Homo sapiens: one gene and its partner. The protein of the gene in region 2 purifies or fractionates together with the protein of the main gene of each other region. This does not show direct contact. Each region holds a gene or a part of one and is shown on either strand. Other genes may lie near its edges.

The links.
Region 1: the proteins of AP3B1 (region 2) and AP3S1 fractionate together in Homo sapiens (co-fractionation; 6 studies listed by BioGRID and IntAct, with this or other methods). This does not show direct contact.

The regions. Positions count from the first base shown.
Region 1 is NC_000005.10:115,836,951-115,844,955, forward strand, and holds the start of AP3S1 (AP-3 complex subunit sigma-1), read left to right. Parts: upstream 1-4,984; 5' UTR 4,985-5,087; coding exon 5,088-5,156; intron 5,157-5,536; exon of another isoform or gene 5,537-5,626; intron 5,627-8,005. Other genes in the region: ubiquitin-like protein ATG12, read right to left, coding at 678-814, 4,440-4,602. UniProt on the Homo sapiens protein: Part of the AP-3 complex, an adaptor-related complex which is not clathrin-associated. The complex is associated with the Golgi region as well as more peripheral structures.
Region 2 is NC_000005.10:78,291,686-78,298,859, reverse strand, and holds the start of AP3B1 (AP-3 complex subunit beta-1), read left to right. Parts: upstream 1-4,161; 5' UTR 4,162-4,280; coding exon 4,281-4,408; exon of another isoform or gene 4,409-4,420; intron 4,421-7,174. UniProt on the Homo sapiens protein: Subunit of non-clathrin- and clathrin-associated adaptor protein complex 3 (AP-3) that plays a role in protein sorting in the late-Golgi/trans-Golgi network (TGN) and/or endosomes.

The DNA.
Region 1 (8,005 bases), about 38 Mb from region 2:
CACAATATATGGCAAAGATACATTGCTTACCTCAAGAAAAATAGGAAAAAAGTAACTGCTATCAAAACAAACTGAAAAAATCCAAAACTTCTGTAGTAATGTACAGATATTGCAATGCTCTATGATAGATTTTTATGCATGGGTATTCATGCATACTTTCATGTGACTTTCTGAGGAAAACAATACAGGAGGCAAAAAATAAATACATAAACTGGTTCACATTGTAAAACAAATCTAAAACATTTCATTTCAGAATTCCCCAGAGAATCCTTTGATAAAGTACATAAACTCCACTAACAAGAGATAAGGCAGGGCACAGTGGCACACTCATGTAATTCTAGCACTTCTGAGGCGGCCCCGTCTCTACTAAAAACACAAAAATTAGCCAGGCTTGGTGGTGCACTCCTGTAATAATCCTGGCTACTAGGGTGGCTGAGGCAGGAGAATCGCTTGAACCAGGAGGAGAAGGTTGCAGTGTGTCACTGCACTCCAGCCTGGGCAACAGAGCGAGACTGTCTCAAAAAAAAAAAATGAATAAATAAAAATAAAGGGATAAAAGGGCATAACAAAAGCGACATATGTGGCTCCATATGCATTTCTATAAACAACAGTTAATTCACTGTTGCCTAGGAACTACTGCAAATTTTTGTAGGAAAACATCACCATTGGTTTCATACCAACTGTTCTGAGGCCACAAGTTTAAGAAACTTTTTGATGAAGTCAATGAGTCCTTGGATGGTTCGTGTTCGCTCTACTGCCCACTTCTTTGTTTTCATAATAGGAGTGTCTCCCACAGCCTTTAGCAAAATGTCAACTGTAAAAGAAGAATAAAATTTACTGACAATTACACTGAAACATCTAAAGAGAATGGAATATAAAAGACTTAGAAATCAGAAATATTTAATCTACATCCATCTTACGTATTTATGATACTGAAGATATGTGAGAGATGTAAAAATGTTAGATTCTTTTCCATCATTTTTTTCTTGATCCTACAAAGTTCTCCCAACAGGACTAATTTTTAAAATGCCTTTTATCTTAACAGGCAGTTCCAAAGAGAGGAAATACAAATGATCAATACACAAACAATATTTAAGTTCACAAAAAGCAAAGTAAAATAATGTCATGTCCCTTTTCACCCACCAAACTAGTTAAAATTAGAGTAATTACCAGTGTAGATGATACTACTTTTGAGAATGTAAAATGGTATACCCTTTGTGGAATGCAGTATGGTAATACAGATCCTAATAAAGGTATACTTTGATTCAATAATACTTCTAGGAATCCAGTGTAAGAAAATATGAGATGTGTGAAAATTCACTTAAAAAGATTTCACCTCCATTTAAGCATTTATTTTTATATGAAACACTGGTAAACCTAAATACCCAAAAAGGATATTTGGAGGTGACTGATTAAATAGAATGTAGTAAACCGCATACACTTTTAACTGCCTGGGGTTCGAATCCTGGCTCTGCCACTTGCTGGGTATATATGTGGATATTTAATCTCTCCAACAGCATGTATAATATCTTAAATTCATTAAAAACCATCACAAACACATTCACATAAATATGGAAGAATATGCAACAAAATGATATTTCTCAGTAGTGACATTGTAGGCAATGATTACTTGGATTTACTTATGCTGTTTGTAACTACCAAATTTTCTGTAATAAACTTTTTAATAAAGGAAAGCAATAAGTTATTAACAATAGAACAACCAAAGCCAAAAAGAAGTTGCAGAAAGAGAAATCTTAAGGTTTCAACGATCCAAAACACAGATATGCAAACCCAAACCCTATGAATCTGTCTCTCAGACATAAAGTTATTTGCTAAAACAAAACAAACATACATCTGGCTGGGCGCGGTGGCTCACGCCAGTAATCTCCACACTTTGGGAGGCTGAGGCAGGAGGATCACTTGAGGTCAGGAGTTCAAGAGGGCCCAGTCCCCTTCCAACTTCTTGTTCACGACCAGCCTGGCCAACATGGTGAAACCCCATCTCTACTAAAAATACAAAAACTTAGCCAGGCGTGGTGGTGCATGCCCGTAATCTCAGCTACTTGGGAGGCTGAGACAGGGGAATAGCTTGAACCCGGGACGCGGAGGTTGCAGTGAACCGAGATTAAGCCACTGCACTCCAGCCTGGGTGACAGACTGAGACATCCTCTCAAAAAAAAAAAAAAAAAAATCTACAGTCAAAAAGCAAGACACATTGAAAGCAAAACAGTGTATTGCTGCCCCCTAAAGTTAACTCTATTCTATTACACCCTTCTTGCTCCATTCTTTAGGTATTAAATATTGGGGCCAAAAGATCAGAGGTCATTTTATTCAAGTTTACTCCTGGAATGAACGCATCTAGAACACATGATCTTTATCTTCCTACTAAAGAACTACTTAATTATCCTAGGTCCAGTTATCTTAGGAATAGGAATGAATTTGGAGATAACGTGGGATTTTAGTTAGCCTATCTTTCATACCTCCTTTCACTGCTCCCTCAAATCCCCTGGGGCTATCAATAAATCGATTAATTCAATTAAACATTTCCAGAAAGTGAAGCAGGAAATATCATGAGTTATGCTACCAAGGATGAAGTGTAAGACAGTGAGAAACCAGAGAAGGAAAATAATTTAATTATAGCTGCCCTCTCTTTTTAATTTTAAAGGTGATTTGCTTGTAGTTCTGAACCCGGATACACATTAGAATCAACTAGGGAAACACTTACTCCCCAGGAAACCTAACATACCTCCAGTGCCAAAACCTTGGTCTGTTTCAACAATCTTTCTTCTGTAGATTAACAAAGGCTGAGGATACAAAACAGTTAAGCTGCTTTCATCATATTATCCTCAACAAATAATGACAAGCACAAGGTAGGAATAGTTAGAAACTAAGTTTTATATTGGAGAGGCAAACTCAAATGCTAACAAGAGCCAGAAAATAAAAATCTCATCCTTAAATGACAGTTCAATTTGCAAAAAAATACTGTCCAGACCAAGAAAATATGCCCTCGGGCAATATTTAGATTGTAAGCCATTTTTTTTAGCTTTTGTTTTGCACAGCTATCATCAGAGTCAAGTAACAAGTTTTGACTAAGACTGTTAGACCTTAAAACGAATCTCCGAACGTCCGCTCTTGCCTATAGTAAATTGGAAGAAAAAATGCAACAAAACACTGTAAAACCTGCGGAATTCTTTTGAAGAAAGATTCCAGTGGCTATCCATGGAAATACTTATAGTGCATCAGGTGGAAATGGGAGTCTGATTTAAAGTGGGAAGGGGGGCAGTCTTGGGAGAGAATTATCCTCCACAGTAGCAGAAGTTGAAGAAAAAGCAATGAGACCAATGTCTTTTTTTTTTTTTTTTTTGAGGCGGAGTTTCGCTCTTGTTGTCCAGGCTGGAGTGCAATGGCGAGACCTCCGCCCACTGCCACCTCCGCCTCGCGGGTTCAAGCGATTCTCCTGCCTCAGCCTCCCGAGTAGCTGGGATTACAGGCGCGCGCCACCACACCCATCTAACTTTTATATTTTTAGTAGAGATGGAGTCTTACCATGTTGGCCAGGCTGGTCTCGAACTCTTGACCTCAGGTGATCCACCCGCCTCAGCCTACCAAAGTGCTGGGATTACAGGAGTGAGCCACCGCGCCCGGCCAGAGACCACTGTCATCTTAAGACAGAACGGGGAAAACGTCTAAGGACGAAATCAGCCTCTCTGAATCGAGGATGCTTATATGCTGCTTTTCCCATAGGCAACTCTAACTCTAAACAGAGTGCTTTAGAACACGTAATTTTAGCAATCTCTTTTACAAAGGGAAACATTCTCAAGCAATAAAGGGTTGAGGATAGCTGACTCAAGCAATGAAATAACTCACAAAGGTTCCAAAATGTGTTTCTTAAAAAGGTAACATCTATGCCTTTAGCTTTCCCTTAGCAGTCTTCATTCTGCATAAGAATTTGGTTTTTGGTTTAAGGAGTGAATTCACAACCAACTGGGAGGGGGAAAAAAGCAAAAGCGAGTTAAGTTGGAAGGCATGAATTCTAATCCAGGCTTTGCCAATGACCACCCCTACCACCATAAAACATTACTCAAATAATTAGCTCCTGTGTTAAGTACCTGGAATTACCGAGACCCCCCTCCCCCCGCCCCACTCAGCTCCCTCCCTCCTTCAAAGAGCTCGCAGTCTGGCCAACTCAAAAAAATACAGTATAAAAATAAGTGTGGCAGCCAAGTATCAGGCCCTACACCGATAGACAGAGATGGTATTTTAACACTCAACTTAAAGGCCTTAAAAATCAAAAAGTACACTTCTTTTCTTCTGATGACTGGTCAAAATGCAGGTCTAGGACAGGCGCTCCTCTAAATTTTGCTTCTTTACTGGCCGCCACCCCTACTCGGATGCAATCTGAACCTCCCGCCTCTCTGCCCGGAAATAAATTCAGTTACTTTTTTTCTTGGTGTCGCCAGCAGGTTCCTCTGTTCCCGGGGAAACTGCAGCGGAAGACGGGGGCTCCGGGGTGGTTGTTTCTGGGGAGACATCCGTAAGTCCTTCCCCTCCAGCAGCAATTGAAGTAGGAAGCTGCAACACAGACTGCGGCTCCTCCGCCATCTTGCTTGGAGACACTCGAGAGCGGAAGTAGCGACTGAGCGCGTGCAGTGGGCGTGCTTTTCTCCAGGGAGCGTCGCAAAGGAGGCGCCGGAGTAGGGGGACGCAATTACACAGTGAAACTTGGTGTTCCCGGCTAGTCATTCAAATCGAAGCTGTCGCAGACCTCTGAACGTTAGTAACGCAACATGTGTTTCTCCGCGACTACAGACCTCGGGAGAGGAGCGGTGGGCAACGTGTCTGTGCTCGGTCGAATGCGCACACTCCAGTTAGGCCGCTGGCTCGGACCTAGAAATGTTTCCGCTTTCCTTAGTGCCTGCCCCGCCCAGGCCCCGCCCCTTGGGCCCCGCCCGACGGCTCGGGAGCGCGCGCGGTCGCGTGCGGGAGGGGGCGGGTGGGGAAGGATCGCAGGCGAGATTACGAGGCGAGGCTCGCGCGCCCGCCCCCGCCCTGGCCCCCAGTGCCCACCCGGTCGGCCCGGCACAGCCATGATCAAGGCGATCCTAATCTTCAACAACCACGGGAAGCCGCGGCTCTCCAAGTTCTACCAGCCCTACGTGAGTATCCAGCCGCCGCTGATCCGGGCGAGGGGGAGTCGTTGGCGACGGGCAGCGCCCAGCGCGGCTTTCTCAGAGCGACCCCCTCCGGCGCGCTGCGGCCCTTGTCCCGTCCCGGCCGCCTGGCGCTCGCCAGCTGTCAGCCTCCTGGTGGGTGTGGACAGGGTGCCCACCTCCCTGCCGCGCGGTCAGCCACCGACGTGGCTTTGCCCGGGCGGTTCCTCCGCCCGTCGGTGGGCTGCATGCTTTCCTGGCTGCGCGGGCGAGGCCCTGGAGACTTCCCGGGGCCCGGCCCTCGCCGATCGGGCAGCCGCAGCCCAGCCGCGCCGCGGAGCCCTGCGCCCAGTCCCCAAGAGCCCACCCCGCGCGGCTGCCTTCCTGCCGCCCGCGGCTGCAGTTAGCCCGGGAGGAGGAAGACGGCGTGGAACTCGTTCTTCTCGCCCCCCTCCGCCGACTCCCATCCTTTCCAGGTGGACTTCTTTCTGTTCTTTGGACAGATGGGCTACCGTTTTTCACTGTGGTCCTCTCATAGCACAGGAACTTTGGCTTCCTGCGTTTGATAACTGCACGTTCTGTACAGTCTCTCTTCTGCATGTTTCGATACGTGACAGACTGCCCAGTGTGACTTTCAGGTGTCTCCTTATTGAAAAGGAAGATATGTGAGGACCTAATATTTTTATCAGGCTTTTTACCAGCTGGCTGCAAATTATTTACCCTCGAAGTAACCGGCGACGTTTGTAGTTGACTGATTGGAGCTGTGGTTCTATACCTAAAAGTTATGATTTCAGCTTCTGGTTTGGCATTTTTCCACGTATGGGAATTTGCCCTCATTTATAGTTTTTTTCTATTTATGAAGAATAGTAGCATTTGTAGAACTTCTCTTTTAACGTGTAAATACTGTTTAGTATGGACAAGTGCAGGAGGCATTAAGGTAGTAGAGATAAGTGATTTGTTGATGATCGAGGAAGGGTTTTATAGAGTTATGTGCTTACCTGAGGGCAGAATTCGCTAGCTGAAACACATAAAATTGGACTCCCAGTGGTAGGATTAATGTGAGGTATAACTGTTGTGTGGTATTGTGGCACTTTGCTTATAGCAAGAAATGAGCTTTCAATTCAATTTTGAAATTGTGCCAAGGCTAACACTTTTATGCAGATAAGTCCCAGATGGAAATCAATCTTGCCATTACAAAGTAAATGTGAAAATGTCAGTTTGCCTAAAATGATAATGCAGTCTGGAGGTGTTAGTTGAAGTGAGAAATCTTGAGCTTATTCTTCATTTTTTTCAGTTGTTTTGCTTTTGCTAGCTATAAAGAATATTTTCTGCTACTCGTGTGTGGTTTTAATTTAGTATAACTTCAATACTAATGGTCTGTTTAAAAATTCTACATCATTCTTTAATCCAGATTAAATTCTAGTTGATCCTCCCGAATGGGAAAAAATGCCATTAACTTTACCTGTTTGTTAAAATATAGTACCAGCCTTTATTGAAGGAGTCTTTGTCATAACCATTTTGCCAGTGTCATCCATTTGCAGTGTAAAAAAGGTATGTTGCAATAGTAAAACAATTCAAAAAATTATTTTTCCATATCTAAACTTAAGCAATATTAAAAATAGTGGGTTTCCTGGCTAATCCATGTAATCGGTGTATACTACTCGTATAGTGTATAATTTAACTATCTATTGAAAAATGCATTTAATTTAGAAACTCAGAAATCTGTCTTTCCCTTGTCCAAAAGTGGGAACAGAAGTATTGTTTACCATCACTTACTAGGTAGCAGTGACGGTTAATGTGGGAAGTGGCAGTTTTGGCAGGAGTGGCAGCTCTGGTGGCATTTTTGGCCATTGTATGAGTGACAGTGCCACTGAGGGCACAGAGCTAGAAGATATAAAAAGAAGAATCTGGTGGTCACTGGCCGTTTATAGGTGGAGTATGAGAAGTTGTTTCTGTGTTTTAAGTTTCTATAAGTTGGGTTTTGCCGAGTGTTTTTTTGTCTTTCAGGAATAATTTAAGATTATTTATTTATACATTTGCTTCCTCCACTAGACCATAACCTTTTTGAGGGCAGTTATTTTTTTTCAGTCATTCATTCCATCAGTTTGTCAACGGATAAATTTAATTTATGCCTACCATGTGCAGGCACTGTTTTAAAATCTGAAGATGAACAGATAACTTTCGCTCTTGTGTGAGGAACATAGCACTATTAAGGAGTAGGCTGTATTATAGCATGCCAGATAGTATTACGTGCTGTGGAAAAAAAAATAAAGCGGGTAAGAGTCTTAGAGAGTGAGAGGATGACAGTTTAAAATAGGGTAGTCTGGTAAGTTCTCACTGAGAAGGTGGCATTTGAGCAAAGACTTGAAGGAGGTAAGAAAGGCAGCCTTGCAGATATCTGGGGGAAGAGCATCCCGGGTAGAAGGAGCAGCAAATGCAAAAACCCTGAGGAGAGCGCCTGTTTGAAGAACCCCAGGAACTTGTACATAGCAGGAGCAGACTGTGTAAGGGAACATTAGTTGGAAGTGTCTGTTTGTGTAGGGCGTCATTCTATTCTTGCTGCCTGGAATGTCCTTCCTTTCCATTGCCACGTGTACAAATTCAACCCCTTGTTCTAGGCCCAGCACAAACATCACCTAAACATTCCGTGAAGCCTTTGATCTTGCTCAAAGCCTCCTCCTGGTTTTTAGGATTTTTTTCATCTTTGTTATGACACAGTATTCTCGTTCACAGCCTATAATTCCTCGTGGCAGCCATCCTATAGAATACTTGAAGGAACGTATCAGATTTTAGGTATATTTTTGTCATTCTAAGCAGTCAACACTGAGTCTTGAACATAGAAAACTCTCTAACTC
Region 2 (7,174 bases):
CTACACCAGGCTAATTTTTGTATTTTTAGTAGAGATGGGGTTTCACCATGTTGACCAGGCTGGTCTCGAACTCCTGACCTCAAGTGATCCGCCTGCCTTGGCCTCCCAAAGTGCTGGGATTACAGGTGTCAGCCACTGTGCCCGGCCTTGAATCAATTTTTATAACATATTCTAGATAATAATGAGAAAATGTTAACATTCAGTATCTATAAAGTATGCCTACAAATCAATAAAAGATCCACTTAAAACTAAGCAAGTGACAAATGTGCATAATTAATAGAAGAAAAATTCAAATAGCCGTTTGATGTGTGCTTTAAATCTGTTATATTTAGGGTAACCATATATGCCTATTTCCCTGGCAGAGTCCTGGTTTACATGTATTTGTCCAGTAAAATTATGACTAGTATCACTTTTTGTCTCGAAAACTTCCTATTTGGGGCTGGGCGCTGTGGCTTACGTCTGTAATCCCAGCACTTTGGGAGGCCGAGGCGAGTGGATCGCTTGAGGTCAGAAGTTCGAGACCAGCCTGACTAACATGGTGAAACTCCATCTCTACTAAAAATATAAAATTAGCTGGGCATAGTAGCGCATGCCTGTAATCCCAGCTACTCGGGAGGCTGAGGCAGGAGAATCACTTGATCCCAGGAGACAGAGGTTTCAGTGAGCTGAGATCGCGCCATTATTCTCCAGCCTGGGCAACAAGAGCAAAACTCATCTCAAAAAACAAACGAACAAACAAACAAAAAAAGAAAACTTCCTATTTGGACAATACATTTTAATGTCTCTTTACTTAGAATAAATGAGATGCAAGTTTAAATGATAGTAGAGATTTTATTATTATTATTACCAATCAGATTAGCAAACATTAAAAAGATTTATGATGTACATTGCTGGAAAGGGTGTGTTGAGATGGAAGAATATTGGTGAAAGTGTTGGTATTCTCTTTTTATGTTAGAAATTTGGCAATATCTATTAAAATTTTAATTGCACATATCATCTGTTCTAGCTATTGGACTTTTGGAATCTTAACTAATGGGAATAGTGGTGGCGTGGTGCAAAGACATGCATTGACAAAGTTGTTATAATAGTCCAAAACTGGAAACAATTTACATGTGTATCAATAGGCTATTGATTAAATAAATAAAGATGCACCTATGAAATGAAATACTATGTAGATCTTTAAAACAGTGAGATGCAGTAAGATGCAGAATGGTATTATGGTTTTAACTGGTATTTGCAGAAACATGCCATATATCATTTATTTTTCTATGCTTAGAGAAAAAAGCTTGAATATATATACACACTTAACACCTATATCATGAGGGTTAGATGAACAGAAATGGAAACAGAAAATTTGATAAAGGTTTTGTTAAGTGTTAGGGGGAAAATAGTTTTTGGAAAAAAAAAAACAGCTTATTTGGCAGTAATACCAGACACTACGTATACTGGCAGGAAACAGAAAAATCTGGTTTGGTTTGGCAACAGGTGTCAAAGAGTAATCTTTTAGTTTTATTAATGTTTCTTCCAGTTGGAAGTGTGACTTTTTTTCCTCTGTCAGAAAACTTCATGGCTATATAAAAGATTTTTCAGTTCTGGAGATATGGGAAAGCTGGATCACAGCCCATGGAGTTATTACTTTTTATCTTTCTGTAAGAATATACAGTGTTAGAATTCTAAGGCAGTAAGGGCCTCAAGTCCCTTCTTGTCAATGCTCTCATTTTTTTATTTTTTTTTTAGTGATAAAAATAAAGTTTTACCTATTTCATCCAGGAATATATGCTTTGTATCTTATACGTAATATTCCAGAGAAAAAGAAAGTTACCTATACCTCTTTTTTGAAGAATAGATATTCTTAATATCCACACCATTCAAAGACAATGTAAAAACAAAACAAACAAAACCCCAAAAAACAAACCCCCAAAACCCAAAACCCCAATATTGTAGGTCAGTCTCCTACCTGAGTCTGTATGAAAAAATAAAAATATTACAAAATAAAATCAAGCAGTTAATTAAAAATAACAGACTCAATGATAAAGAACTCTTCAAGTCCATCAGAAAAACTACTCAGTGTAAAAGTGGATAAATAGGTTCATGTGCAATTCCCAGGAAATAAAATGCAAATGGAGTAACAATCACATAAAATATTCTCAAGTTCATTATGGCCATGAGAATGAAAATTAATTACAATACAAATAATATTCATTTGTATCATATTGATGACAATTAAACATTTTTAGAAAGCTAAACGTTTGTGAGAATGTGAAGAAAGAAGATTATCCACTGCTAAAAGTATGCTGGAAAAAAATTTAGGATATCTGGTAAAAGTGTACATGCTCTAAAACCAAGAAATTCTGTAATCAGGTATGTGTCCGAGATTTTCCAGGCTATGTGTATATCAATGTTCTCATTTTACAAATAAAGTAATCAAAGCCTAGCTCTTTTTACTATTAATATATATAAAACTACTTAGAACTTTTAATATATATTAAAAGTTAACTATTTTAACTTAAAAGTATTTATTTTAACTTAAAATAAATTTTTTTATATTAAAAGTTAACTACTTTAACTATTTATATATATAAAACTACTTAGAAGTTTTAATATATATAAAACTACTTATATCCTGGTATATATTAAGGATTATATAATAATATATAGTTATCTATGATCATCCTCATCCTCATCATCAATAGTCAGTTGTAGGTGAAATTCTATTAATTAATACTGACAAATAACACATTTTAGGTGCTCATCATTGGCTCTCCGGAGGAGTATTCTAACAGCTGAATTAAAAACCTGCCAATATTTGACCAGACGATCAAGTTTGGAGGACGTCCCTTCCTCTCCCACCCAGAGCCACGCTCTTGCGTGCTTCCACAGTGACAGTGTGACCTTTTGAAATTTGGAGATCATACTCTCATCCTTGAAAACGCCCCACCGCCTTCCCTGGGGCGGCCGGCCTCCAGGTTCGCGTTCTACCTGGTAGAATCCCTTGACAGTTTCAGTACCTGGCCGCCAGGGCTTTGGGTGTTAATGCCTTCCTTGGACGGGAGGCACTGGGGAGAAGAGAGGGAAGGCGCTGAAACCCACCTGAGAAGGCGGGCTGGGGGAAGGCACCCCGGGAAAGAGGTTTTCTCGGGTGCCAGCACCCGGAGAGAGCTACTCTGGGGCCAGGCAAGCATCCCGCCTAGGCTCCCTAGTGCATATTAGTGAGTAACACGACTGGCGCGCGAGGTGGTCCATTTTATTTTTGGTAGCTAGACGCCAATAGGACGCACCACTTCAGCTCCAAACGGGAACTGGTGGCCCCAAGATGTTTTCTTTTCTTTTTCATTTTTTTGAGACAGGGTCTCGCTCTGTCGCCCAGGCTGGAATGCAGTGGAGAGATCTCAACTCATCGCTACCCCCTCCTTCTGGGTTCGAGTGATCCTCCCACCTCAGCCTCAGTAGCTGGGACCACAGACACGCGCCACCACGCCGGCTAATTTTTATATTTTTTGCAGAGAAAGGGTCTCGCTATGTTGCCTAGGCTGGTCTCGAACTCCTGGCCTCAAGTGATCCACCCGCCTCGGCCTCCCAAAGTGCTGGAATTACTGGCGTGAGCCACCGCGCCCGGTCTGCCCCCAAGACTTTCATTGAAAAGATGGAATGGTCGCTTCTGTGCGGATCCTCCAAACCATCGTTGGGAGAGGCCTCCTTAAAGTCTAGGAGAAAAGTTGTTTGGGACCGATATGAAAGTAAGGCAAAGCCGGATGGAAGAGAGTAGCCGAAACAAGCAAGAAAAGGAAAAGCGATCGTGATGGGTTTAGGAAAGGTGATCTGGCGTGCTAAATGGCATTTCCGGAGAAATCTGAAAACTATTGCTTTACTGAAGTATAGCAAAGAGCTGTCCGGGCTCTGGAAACTCCTTAACGGATCAAAACGGATGCAATGGGTATCCTTCTCCAAAGACACACCTCAAACGGGCCGGGAGCCGGGCAGTTAGCCACCCGCTGCCTCCCCTTCCGCAGTCCGGCTCGCAGCCGCTCAGCTACCTCTAAAGCCCGGAGCAGGAAAGTCCGCGCAGGCCTGGATGGCCCGGGTGGTAATCTAGCAGGCCTGCACACTGCGCATGCGCAGGGGGTGGACTGCCAGGTCGGCTCAGGGAGCCGTGACGAGTCCGGAAGCGCCTGCGCGCGCTCCTCCGTACGAGAACTAGTTTTGTTCCGTGCCCTCTGGACTGGAACCTTTTGGAGAGAACCCCCGGCAGGACCAACCCCGCACCCGCCAGCACCGCGGCAATGTCCAGCAATAGTTTTCCTTACAATGAGCAGTCCGGAGGAGGGGAGGCGACGGAGCTGGGTCAGGAGGCGACCTCAACCATTTCCCCCTCGGGGGCCTTCGGCCTCTTTAGCAGCGATTTGAAGAAGTGAGGAGAAAGGTTTGGGTTGCGGGGATGGGAGGGAGGAGCTGCGGACTCGGAGGAGTGGGCGCCAGGGTGGGCTTCCTGGAGAGGAGCGGGGTCGCCCTGAGGTCTGAGCAGGGCAGGGCGGTAACGTGTCCCGCGGGTGGGTAGGTGGGGTTGGTTGGCGGTGGTGGGAGTTGTGGGAGTTTGGGGCGAATGTGTGTAGGGGTCTCTAGTAGTTTTCAAACTTTAGTGAAAAGGAAACCACTTGGTGAGCTTAGATCCCACCCCTGAAGACACTGATTGAATTGGACTTGGGCTGGGCTCAGGAGTCTGAATTTTGAGCATCGTCTTCTAGTTTATTTACCGTTCGCCGGATCAGACTTTAATACATTCCCTGATTAGGGTGAAAGGAGTGTTTTGGTGAAGGTGAGAGTGCGAGTGTTGCTTGTGGGAAGTTATTTTGTGACCCCGGAGTGTAGGAGCAGAGAGGTGGATTTAGGCTGTTTGAATGGACAAACTGGTTTACACCAGTATTAATGTTCTTGGATTATGTCCTTTGCACTACAGACAAAAACACCAATCCAAAATAAGCATATGAATAGAAAATATTTTAAAAGAGTGTTACTGTGAACAAATCCAAAACTTTTACAGATTAATAATGTGAATTTTAAAAACGAATGTTAAACAAGGTACACTTAGTTTTGTAAAAAGTATCACCGAGAAATGGAAAGAAATCCCAAGTTGTTTGTTTTGGGGGGTGGGTTGGTGGTAGTGGTTACATTTACCAGAATTATCATTTTTACATTTCTCTTATTTTAAATCTTTCATTACTAAGCAATAGGGTCACATAATAGTCTGTCACTAAATTCATGCTAAATTAAGGTAGAATAGCTGTGCTAGTAGCTTTGCAGATCTGTTAGAGGGTATAATTAAAATTTAAATTAAACGTTACTAACAATATTGGGTAGTCTAGAAAGTGCTACTACTTCAAATTGGGATTACATTTTGGCTGTATTGAGGATCAAAATCATATATATAGCATGTAAGATACAATCTTTTCCTTTTTCCCAAGGTTAGAAAAGTTTAAAAGTAAGGTAACTGATTTCATTTTTCATTATATGCATTTGATGATCCATTGTTCTAGAACAAGTACGGAGCTTGTTGCCTCTACTATTAGCAAAATGTTTAGACTGAATTAACCTGTATATCGGCATCAATCTGTTTCGCAAATTAATTTACTTTTATGGTTTGTGAACATCTACGATGTTTTCTCTTAGATTTTTGTCAGATTTGGGGCCAGGCACTGCGGCTCACGCCTGTAATCCCAGCACTTTGGGAGGGTGAGGTGGGCGGATCGCTTGAGGCCAGGAGTTCGAGACCAGCCTGGCCAACATGGTGAAACCCCGTCTCTACTAAAAATACAAAAATTAGCCGGGCGTGGTGGCTCGTGCCTGTAATCCCAGCTACTCGGGAGGCTGAGGCAGGAGAATCGCTTGAACCCGGGAGGCGGAAGCTGCAGTGAGCCGAGATCGCGCCACAGCACTCAAACGTGGGCGACAGAGTGAGACTCCGTCTCAAAAAAAGAAAAAAAAGAAAAAGATTTTTGTCAAATTTGGACCTGATTTGGAAAAAAAAAACAAAAAAAACTTACGGCTTTGACTCTGTGACCAGTGCTCTTGAGGTGACCTAACAGGTTGGATTTAAAATAAAAGTAGCTAATTGATTAGAGGTGATATGTAATATATGCAAATAACCATGGTTGAATTGTGTTCCCCGAAAGATATTTATTGAGTATTTGTGCACACCACTTTACATTTATTATCTCATTCAGTTTTCCTAAACAACCCTGCAGGTTATTACCAGGTACTTCTCTGCTCCCACTTTACACGTGAGGAAATTGGAGCAAGGTTGTTAACTTGGAAAAGGCCACAAAGGTAGAACATTGCACTGCCTGAATTTGAACTCAGGGGCTCTAATATTAGAGCCCATTCTCTCAAAAGTTTAGATGTGCTACTTACTACTTGATGAAATGTATGGTATTTTTATTAGTGAGTGCATACAACTCACAAAAAGTTTAAAACTTTAAATAGTAGCTCCAAGTAGTACCACCAGAGAAGCTTCCAGGGATTAGAAACATTTGGCTATTGACCTGCAGTCTAATGGAATTGTACAGAAACAAGGAGACCCCTGTTCTGGAAGTGGTCATTAAATCTCTCTTGAGTCCACATTTTCTCATTTATAAAACCGTAATATTACTTGCCTTTTAAAAAATCGAATGACAAAGTTTATATAAAAAACTTAAAGCTTACCCTATTCCTCACCTCTGGTTTTTAATGGTTTACTCTGATGAAATAGTTTCAAGTTTACAAAAAAGTTGCAACAATGACACAGAGAGCTACCCTTTTGCAGATTTACCAATTAAAAAAAAAATGCTACATTGCTTGCTTACTCTCTCTGCCACTCACTCTCCCCATGCATATTCAGGCACATATACGTATTCATGTTATTATGTCTTCTGAACCATTGGAGACTCAGTTGTACACATCATGTTCTTTTACAATGAAAATCTTAATGTGTAATTTTTAAGAACAAAGATATTCTCTTACGCAACTACAGTGTTGATGTATTCAGGAAATTAATCTAATTTTATCCTTTGTTCCAATAAAGTGTTTTTTTTCCCAAGCATTTTTTTCCTCAAGTACAGTTTCCAGTCCAAGATAATATATTTAATTTAGTTGCCATGTCTCTTTAATCTTCTTTAATCTGGGATAGTTCCTTAGCCTTTTT